Homo sapiens: one gene and its partner. The protein of the gene in region 1 purifies or fractionates together with the protein of each later gene. This does not show direct contact. Each region holds a gene or a part of one and is shown in the gene's direction. Other genes may lie near its edges.

Evidence for each region. The genes of interacting proteins can lie anywhere in the genome.
Region 2: the proteins of EARS2 (region 1) and PCDHGB4 purify together in Homo sapiens (co-immunoprecipitation; one large-scale study listed by IntAct). This does not show direct contact.

What each region holds. Positions count from the first base shown.
Region 1 is NC_000016.10:23,533,115-23,536,901, reverse strand, and holds part of EARS2 (nondiscriminating glutamyl-tRNA synthetase EARS2, mitochondrial), read left to right. Parts: intron 1-1,541; coding exon 1,542-2,014; intron 2,015-3,787. UniProt on the Homo sapiens protein: Non-discriminating glutamyl-tRNA synthetase that catalyzes aminoacylation of both mitochondrial tRNA(Glu) and tRNA(Gln) and participates in RNA aminoacylation for mitochondrial protein translation.
Region 2 is NC_000005.10:141,390,666-141,394,452, forward strand, and holds part of PCDHGB4 (protocadherin gamma-B4 isoform 1 precursor), read left to right. Parts: intron 1-1,967; exon of another isoform or gene 1,968-2,148; coding exon of another isoform or gene 2,149-3,787. Other genes in the region: PCDHGA8 (protocadherin gamma-A8 isoform 1 precursor), read left to right, coding at 2,149-3,787. UniProt on the Homo sapiens protein: Potential calcium-dependent cell-adhesion protein. May be involved in the establishment and maintenance of specific neuronal connections in the brain.

The sequences.
Region 1 (3,787 bases):
AGACCAGCCTGACCAACGTGGTGAAACCCCATTTCTACTAAAAATATAAAAATTAGCCGGTTGTGGTGGCAGGCACCTGTAATCCTAGCTACTCAGGAGGCTGAGGCAGGAGAATTGCTTGAACCCTGGAGGTGGAGGTTGCAGTGAGTCAAGGTCACGACACTGCACTCCAGCCTGGGTGACACAGCGAGACTCTATCTCAAAAAAAAAAAAAAAAAAGAAAAAAAAAGTTTTTTTTTTGAGACAGGGTCTCGCTGTGTCACCCAGGCTAGAGTGCAGTGGTGCCATCATAGTTTACTGCAGCCTCAACCTCCTGGGCTCCAGTGATTCTTCCACCTTGGCCTCCCACAGAGCTGGGACTACAGGAATGCACCACCACACCTGGCTGATTTTGTTTTGTTTTGTTTTGTAGAGACAGAGTCTCACTATGTTGCCCAGGCTGGTATTTTAAATTTTTAAATAAGAGACAGGATTTTGCTATGTTACCCACGCTGGTCTTGAACCCTTGAGGTCAGGCTGTCCTTCTACCTTGACCTCCCAAAACACTGGGATTACAGACGTGAGCAACTGTGTCCAGCCCTGTGCACCATTTATTGATTGATTGAACACTTAGCTGTGGCAAAGACTAACCTTACAAGCATTCCATCTGTGTCTCAGAACGCTTTTGGGTGCAGTTAGTGGAATACCCTGTTAGAAGGGACAAACGATACTTTAACTCACAGATGGATCACCTGGGGACCTAGTTAATGTTCAGATTCTGACTCAGTAGGTCTGGGGTGGAGCCTAAGAGTCTGCATTTCTGGCAGACTCCCAAGAGGCTGATGCTAGGGGCCCACAGACCACACTTTCAGTAGCCAGGGCATCAATCATAGACATTTGTCTTTTGATTCTGCACAAGGCTGGAGGTGGGTGACTCCAGGATGAGACTAGCAGTGTAGAGACACCAGGGCTCTATTTTGGCTTCTCTCTGACTTCATTGCCTTCCCTCCTGCAGTTGCAAGTAGCTGCCGCAGGTCCAAGCATGCTCCCCTTACAGGACAACATCCAAAGAGGACAGAAGTGGGGCAGTGGGAAATTTTAAGAAGGGATTTTCCTCCTGTGGCTTTCTCTTCTTGTCCTTTGGAGAGAAAAACCTTTCCCGGAACCTTAAACCTTTCTTACTCCCCAGGCATGCTTTTCTTTGCATCCCAGTGACTAGGATGGGGTTACATTCCTGCCTGGACTGGTCACTGGCATGGAGCAATAGGATTGCAAGATTGGCTATACCAATCAGGATTCAACCCCTCGGACTAAGCATTTTGCTATTTTCTTGTTAGCAAGGAAGAAGCGTGGAATGGCTGGTAGATAGGCAGACATTAGTGTCTGCTACACCATGTTATCTCAGTTTTCCACACAACTGTACCATCATCCCTGTTATAGACTGAGGAAGCAGCTTGCAGCAGTAACTGACTTGCTTAAGGTCACACAGCTATGACAGAGGTAGGACTCCTGTCCATCAACCTTTCCATCAACAGTACTCATGCTGCTCTGCTCCCCATCAGGTATGACAATCGGTGCAGGAACATGAGCCAGGAGCAGGTGGCCCAGAAGCTGGCCAAGGACCCCAAGCCTGCGATCCGCTTCCGCCTGGAGCAGGTGGTGCCAGCCTTCCAGGACCTGGTCTATGGCTGGAATAGGCATGAAGTGGCCAGCGTGGAGGGAGACCCAGTCATCATGAAGAGCGACGGCTTCCCCACATACCACCTGGCCTGCGTGGTGGACGACCACCACATGGGCATCAGCCACGTGCTGCGAGGCTCTGAGTGGCTCGTCTCCACTGCCAAGCACCTGCTCCTCTACCAGGCCCTGGGCTGGCAGCCACCCCACTTCGCCCACCTGCCCCTGCTCCTCAACAGGGATGGCAGCAAGCTCTCCAAGAGGCAAGGGGACGTTTTCCTGGAGCACTTTGCTGCTGATGGCTTCCTGCCCGATTCCTTGTTGGACATCATCACCAACTGTGGCTCAGGTTTTGCAGGTACGTGCCCACCTGAATAGTCCTGGCAGCAGAGAGCATGGCCAGGAGGAGCAGGGCTTTGGCTCAGACAGTCCTGCTCTTTGGTCCCAGCTTTGCCACCTACCAGCCAGGTGACCTTGGACAAGTTTATTCTTTTATTCAATAAATGTTTATTTTGCCAGACACCACATTAAGTGCTGGGGCTACAGTAGTGGGTGAGATAGACATGATCCCTGCCCTCAAGGGACTTATAGTCTCTGAGCCTCAGTTGCATATCTGGAAAATGGGGATAAGTGTCTACCTCATTGGGTTAGGATTCACTGAGCTCAGGAGTGTAAGGTACCCAGCCCAGCACCTGTCACACTGTAAGCACAAAAAATGACAGACCCTATGATTGTGACAATTATTACAAGCATGTATGCTAACAGTATGACTAGAATTAATATGGATTTAGTTTCTTTTTTTCCTTCTTCATTTTACTGCCAGATGAATCTAGTTTATTTCAAGCTGAGCACTTACCCATGGTCCAAGACTTAGACCCAAACCTTGAAGAAGCAAGCATCAAATAGGATGACCTGAAGGATTTCTGAAAATGTGTCCAGAATAGCCTGCCTGCTGGTCTCATTTCATTTAACACAACATACTATTAAGGGGTAGATACATATCTCCACTGTTTGTAAGAGGATTGTGAAGCTCAGAGAAGCTGAGTAACTTGCCAAAGTCACACACCTAGTGAGGGATATAGCGCTTTAGGCCTATGCCTGATCACGATGCCTGCTGACCGTATGGGACTGAGCTGCTGCTCACAAGAAGCAGCTCCCAGCACTACGGTTCTTAACTTTTTTTTTTTTTTTTTGAGACAGAACTTCTTGTCCCCCATTCTGGAGTGCAATGGCGCGATCTCGGCTCACCGCAACCTCCGTCTCCTGGGTTCAAGCGATTGTCCTGCCTCAGCCTCCCGAGTACCTGGGATTACAGGCACCCGCCACCACGCTTGGCTAATTTTTGTATTTTTAGTAGAGATGGGGTTTCACCATGTTGTCCAGGCTGTTCTCGAACTCCTGACCTCAGGTGATCCACCCGCCTTGGCCTCCCAAAGTACTGGGATTACAGGCGTGAGCCACCGTGCCTGGCCTGGTTCTTAACTCTTGATCGTGCTTTGGAATCAGCTAGGAAGCTTCTAAAATATGCTCAGACCCCAACCAAACCCAGTTGACTCAGAGTCTCTGGTACAGCCAGGCAATGGGCGTACTGTTCTGCAGCTCGTGTCTTGAGAGTAATGGAGATGGGTTTAGCCTGATTGTTTTCAGACCTTTTTTTCTTTAATGATGGAACCCTTTCTGAAAATGAAAGCTCATTCAGGCTCTTGATATATAAATAGCTAGAAGTTAAATCCCTTTGGGCAAAGTGGAATGGGGGGCCCAGGGCTTGCTCACTCAGCCTCCCTTATGTTTGAAAGTAGAAGGAGGGCGGGCACAGTGGCTCATGTCTGTAATCCCAGCACTTTGGGAGGCCAGTGCAGGAGGATCATTTAAGCCTGGGAGTTTGAGACCAACCTGGGCAATATAGTGAAACTCCATGTCTACAGAAAAATGTATGTATGTATGTGTGTATGATGTATTTATTTGATAGAGTCTCGCTCTGTTGCCCAGGCTGGAGTGCAACGGCACAATCTTAGCTCACTACAATCTCCGCCTCTCAGGTTCAAGTGATTTTCCTGCCTCAGCTTCCTGAGTAGCTGGGATTACAGGCATGCGCCACCACACCTGGCTAATTTTTGTATTTTTAGTAGAG
Region 2 (3,787 bases), on another chromosome or scaffold:
AAAAATAATAAAGCCAAAGAATTTAAGCTAAAATTCAACACTTTTCTTAACTAATTTAACTGGTATGGTCTCCATAGTAGTCCACTGTTTTGTTTCCTGTGTTAACTTCCCTTTTGTTTCAAAAGCTCTTAGAATAAGGAGTCAACTGGATTTTTATGTCCATGGACCCCTTGTGATTATATGCAGTGTACGCTGTGTGTGCGTGTGTGTGTGTGTGTGTGTGAGAGAGATCCTTTTACTTAGAAAAAGGTCTACTATGCTCATTAGAAGATCAAAAGCAGATTCTCCTTACTTGTAACATAGGAGTTTCAGGATTAATCTGTATTCAAGCTCATTCTATATCCTTCATCAAAGAAAAGACAATGTTTTGTGTCTGTTGTCCCTCTCACACACAGCCCTAATATATAATGTGTAACTGCCTTATCTGCAGCCCTAAACTAATATAGCTAGAGGTCTTCTAATCATTCTCCTACCTCTAGGAAAGAAATATAGTCTTGAAAACTGCCAATCTGGTGTGCATACAAAATATATACAAAATACCAAGGAACATTATATGAGCCTTTTGCTAGGTATATCTAAGCAACTGCTTCAGTTAATGGCCACTTTACAAATTGCTGAAAGAAGGAAACGTCTTTCGATTCTTTTTTTTTTCTTTTTTTTTTTTTGAGACAGAGTCTCTGTCTGTTACTCAGGCTGTAGTGCAGTGGCACAATGATAGCTCCCTCCAGCCTCAAACTCCTGGGCTCAAGCATTCCTTCTGCATCAGCCTCCTGACTAGCTGGAACTCAGGCTCATGCCACCAGACCTGGCTAATTTTTCTGTTTTCAGTAGAGAAAATATTTTCTTTCACTAATTTAACTGGTATGGTTTCCATTGTCTACCCAGTTTTCCATATGCATAAGAAAATATATTCACAGGAAAATATAAAGTTTTCAGATTTCATGAGTGGTTTTAAGAAAGTTTTAGTCAGTGAAAAAACTATCATACCAGTCTTCAAAGGAAGGGTGAAATAAGTTCATCTGCTACGTTGCCCAGGCTGGTCTTGAAGGGAAACAGACTTTTTTGTAGTCATACTTATCCTTTGGCTTCTTAGTAAGTATTATATAGTCATTACTTTTTGCAGTTTTTTAGATCAAAGTGTTAATGTAGGTAAAGTTAATTTTAGAATATATGTAAAAGTCAAGTCTGCTTTAAATTTAATCATCTCTTTGGTGAAAGGGATGGGATGGAGCTTTGCTTTTTATCATATATTCATCTGTACCTTTCAAGTATTCAAATAGAAAAATATAAACAATGTAAATAAAATAGCAAAACAATGTAATATCTCATAAAACTGCAATGGTAAAAGCATTTATCCTATTGAAATTCCACAATTTTTATTTGAAAATATTATCGACATGTAATTCAAGTGGCATTTAGAAGAATAATTTAAAAGCAACAACTCTATAGAAAGCTTGTAAAATGATTAAGTAGTTTAAACCAAATAAAACAATTTCTGAGTCAGTCATCTCCAGTAGGTCTATTTTAGTCTCAAGATAAATTCATTTCTGGTGACAACTGAAGTTCTTAGTTATTTGTTAGTATATATTGGAGACATTTACAATAAAGCTTAGAGCACAATGGGAAATGAAAGTATCATGTTTTTTTTAAGACCAAATGTATTGCAGAAATGTGAGTAATTTAATCCGATGCTACAATCTGATCATTCTGATCTAATCTGATCATTTAATAACACTAAATAAAACCTTCATCTCACATTCTTTGGCTGTTTCTTTTAAAATATGGGTTTACGGATAAATCAAATAAATTCAAAACAAAGTAATAAGCAAATGATTTTTTTTTCTCAGTAATCTAGTAGAGTATTACATTTAGAAGTAATCTGTATCTCAGTGCAGTAACTATTTAGGACTGTAAGCGCCGCTGTTCACCTACTGGAAGACAAATGCAACCGAAAACACTCAGATCTCACACCTCACGAAGACCCGCAGATGCCACAAACTAACTGCTGGACTGCAGCGAAACCCGACCCCTGTTTGGAGGCACTCCAGGTTTCCGGAGGATTGTCATCTCCATAGCTGCGGCAAGAAACTAAATAAGACCCATTTATGCACAGTGAAGATTCTGAGAGGATTCTGCAGCAAAACAACAATGGCCGCTCCACAGAGTCGCCCCAGACGCGGCGAGCTGATCCTGCTGTGCGCGCTGCTGGGAACGCTGTGGGAAATCGGGAGGGGACAGATTCGCTACTCTGTGCCAGAAGAGACGGACAAAGGCTCCTTCGTGGGTAATATCTCCAAGGACCTGGGGCTGGACCCCCGGAAGCTGGCGAAGCACGGAGTCCGTATCGTCTCCAGAGGTAGGACGCAGCTCTTTGCTCTGAACCCGCGCAGCGGCAGCTTGATCACCGCGGGCAGGATAGATCGGGAGGAGCTCTGCGCTCAGAGCCCGCGGTGTCTGATAAATATTAACACCCTGGTTGAGGATAAAGGAAAACTCTTTGGGGTAGAAATAGAAATAATTGATATTAACGATAATAACCCAAAATTCCAGGTCGAAGATCTAGAAGTAAAAATTAACGAAATCGCGGTTCCTGGAGCACGTTATCCACTCCCAGAAGCTGTTGACCCGGATGTGGGCGTGAACTCCCTCCAGAGCTACCAGCTCAGCCCCAATCACCACTTCTCCCTGGACGTGCAGACTGGAGACAATGGAGCCATAAACCCAGAGCTGGTGCTGGAGCGCGCCCTGGACAGGGAGGAAGAGGCTGCTCACCACCTGGTCCTCACGGCCTCGGATGGCGGCAAGCCGCCTCGCTCTAGCACAGTGCGCATCCACGTGACAGTGTTGGATACAAATGACAATGCCCCGGTTTTTCCTCACCCGATTTACCGAGTGAAAGTCCTTGAGAACATGCCCCCAGGCACGCGGCTGCTTACTGTAACAGCCAGCGACCCGGATGAGGGAATCAACGGAAAAGTGGCATACAAATTCCGGAAAATTAATGAAAAACAAACTCCGTTATTCCAGCTTAATGAAAATACTGGGGAAATATCAATAGCAAAAAGTCTAGATTATGAAGAATGTTCATTTTATGAAATGGAAATACAAGCCGAAGATGTGGGGGCACTTCTGGGGAGGACCAAATTGCTCATTTCGGTGGAAGATGTAAATGACAATAGACCAGAAGTGATCATTACGTCTTTGTTTAGCCCAGTGTTAGAAAATTCTCTTCCCGGGACAGTAATTGCCTTCTTGAGTGTGCATGACCAAGACTCTGGAAAGAATGGTCAAGTTGTCTGTTACACACGTGATAATTTACCTTTTAAATTAGAAAAGTCAATAGGTAATTATTATAGATTAGTGACAAGGAAATATTTGGACCGAGAAAATGTCTCTATCTACAATATCACAGTGATGGCCTCAGATCTAGGAACACCACCTCTGTCCACTGAAACTCAAATCGCTCTGCACGTGGCAGACATTAACGACAACCCTCCTACTTTCCCTCATGCCTCCTACTCAGCGTATATCCTAGAGAACAACCTGAGAGGAGCCTCCATCTTTTCCTTGACTGCACACGACCCCGACAGCCAGGAGAATGCCCAGGTCACTTACTCTGTGACCGAGGACACGCTGCAGGGGGCGCCCCTGTCCTCGTATATCTCCATCAACTCTGACACCGGTGTCCTGTATGCGCTGCAATCTTTCGACTATGAGCAGATCCGAGACCTGCAGCTACTGGTAACAGCCAGCGACAGCGGGGACCCGCCCCTCAGCAGCAACATGT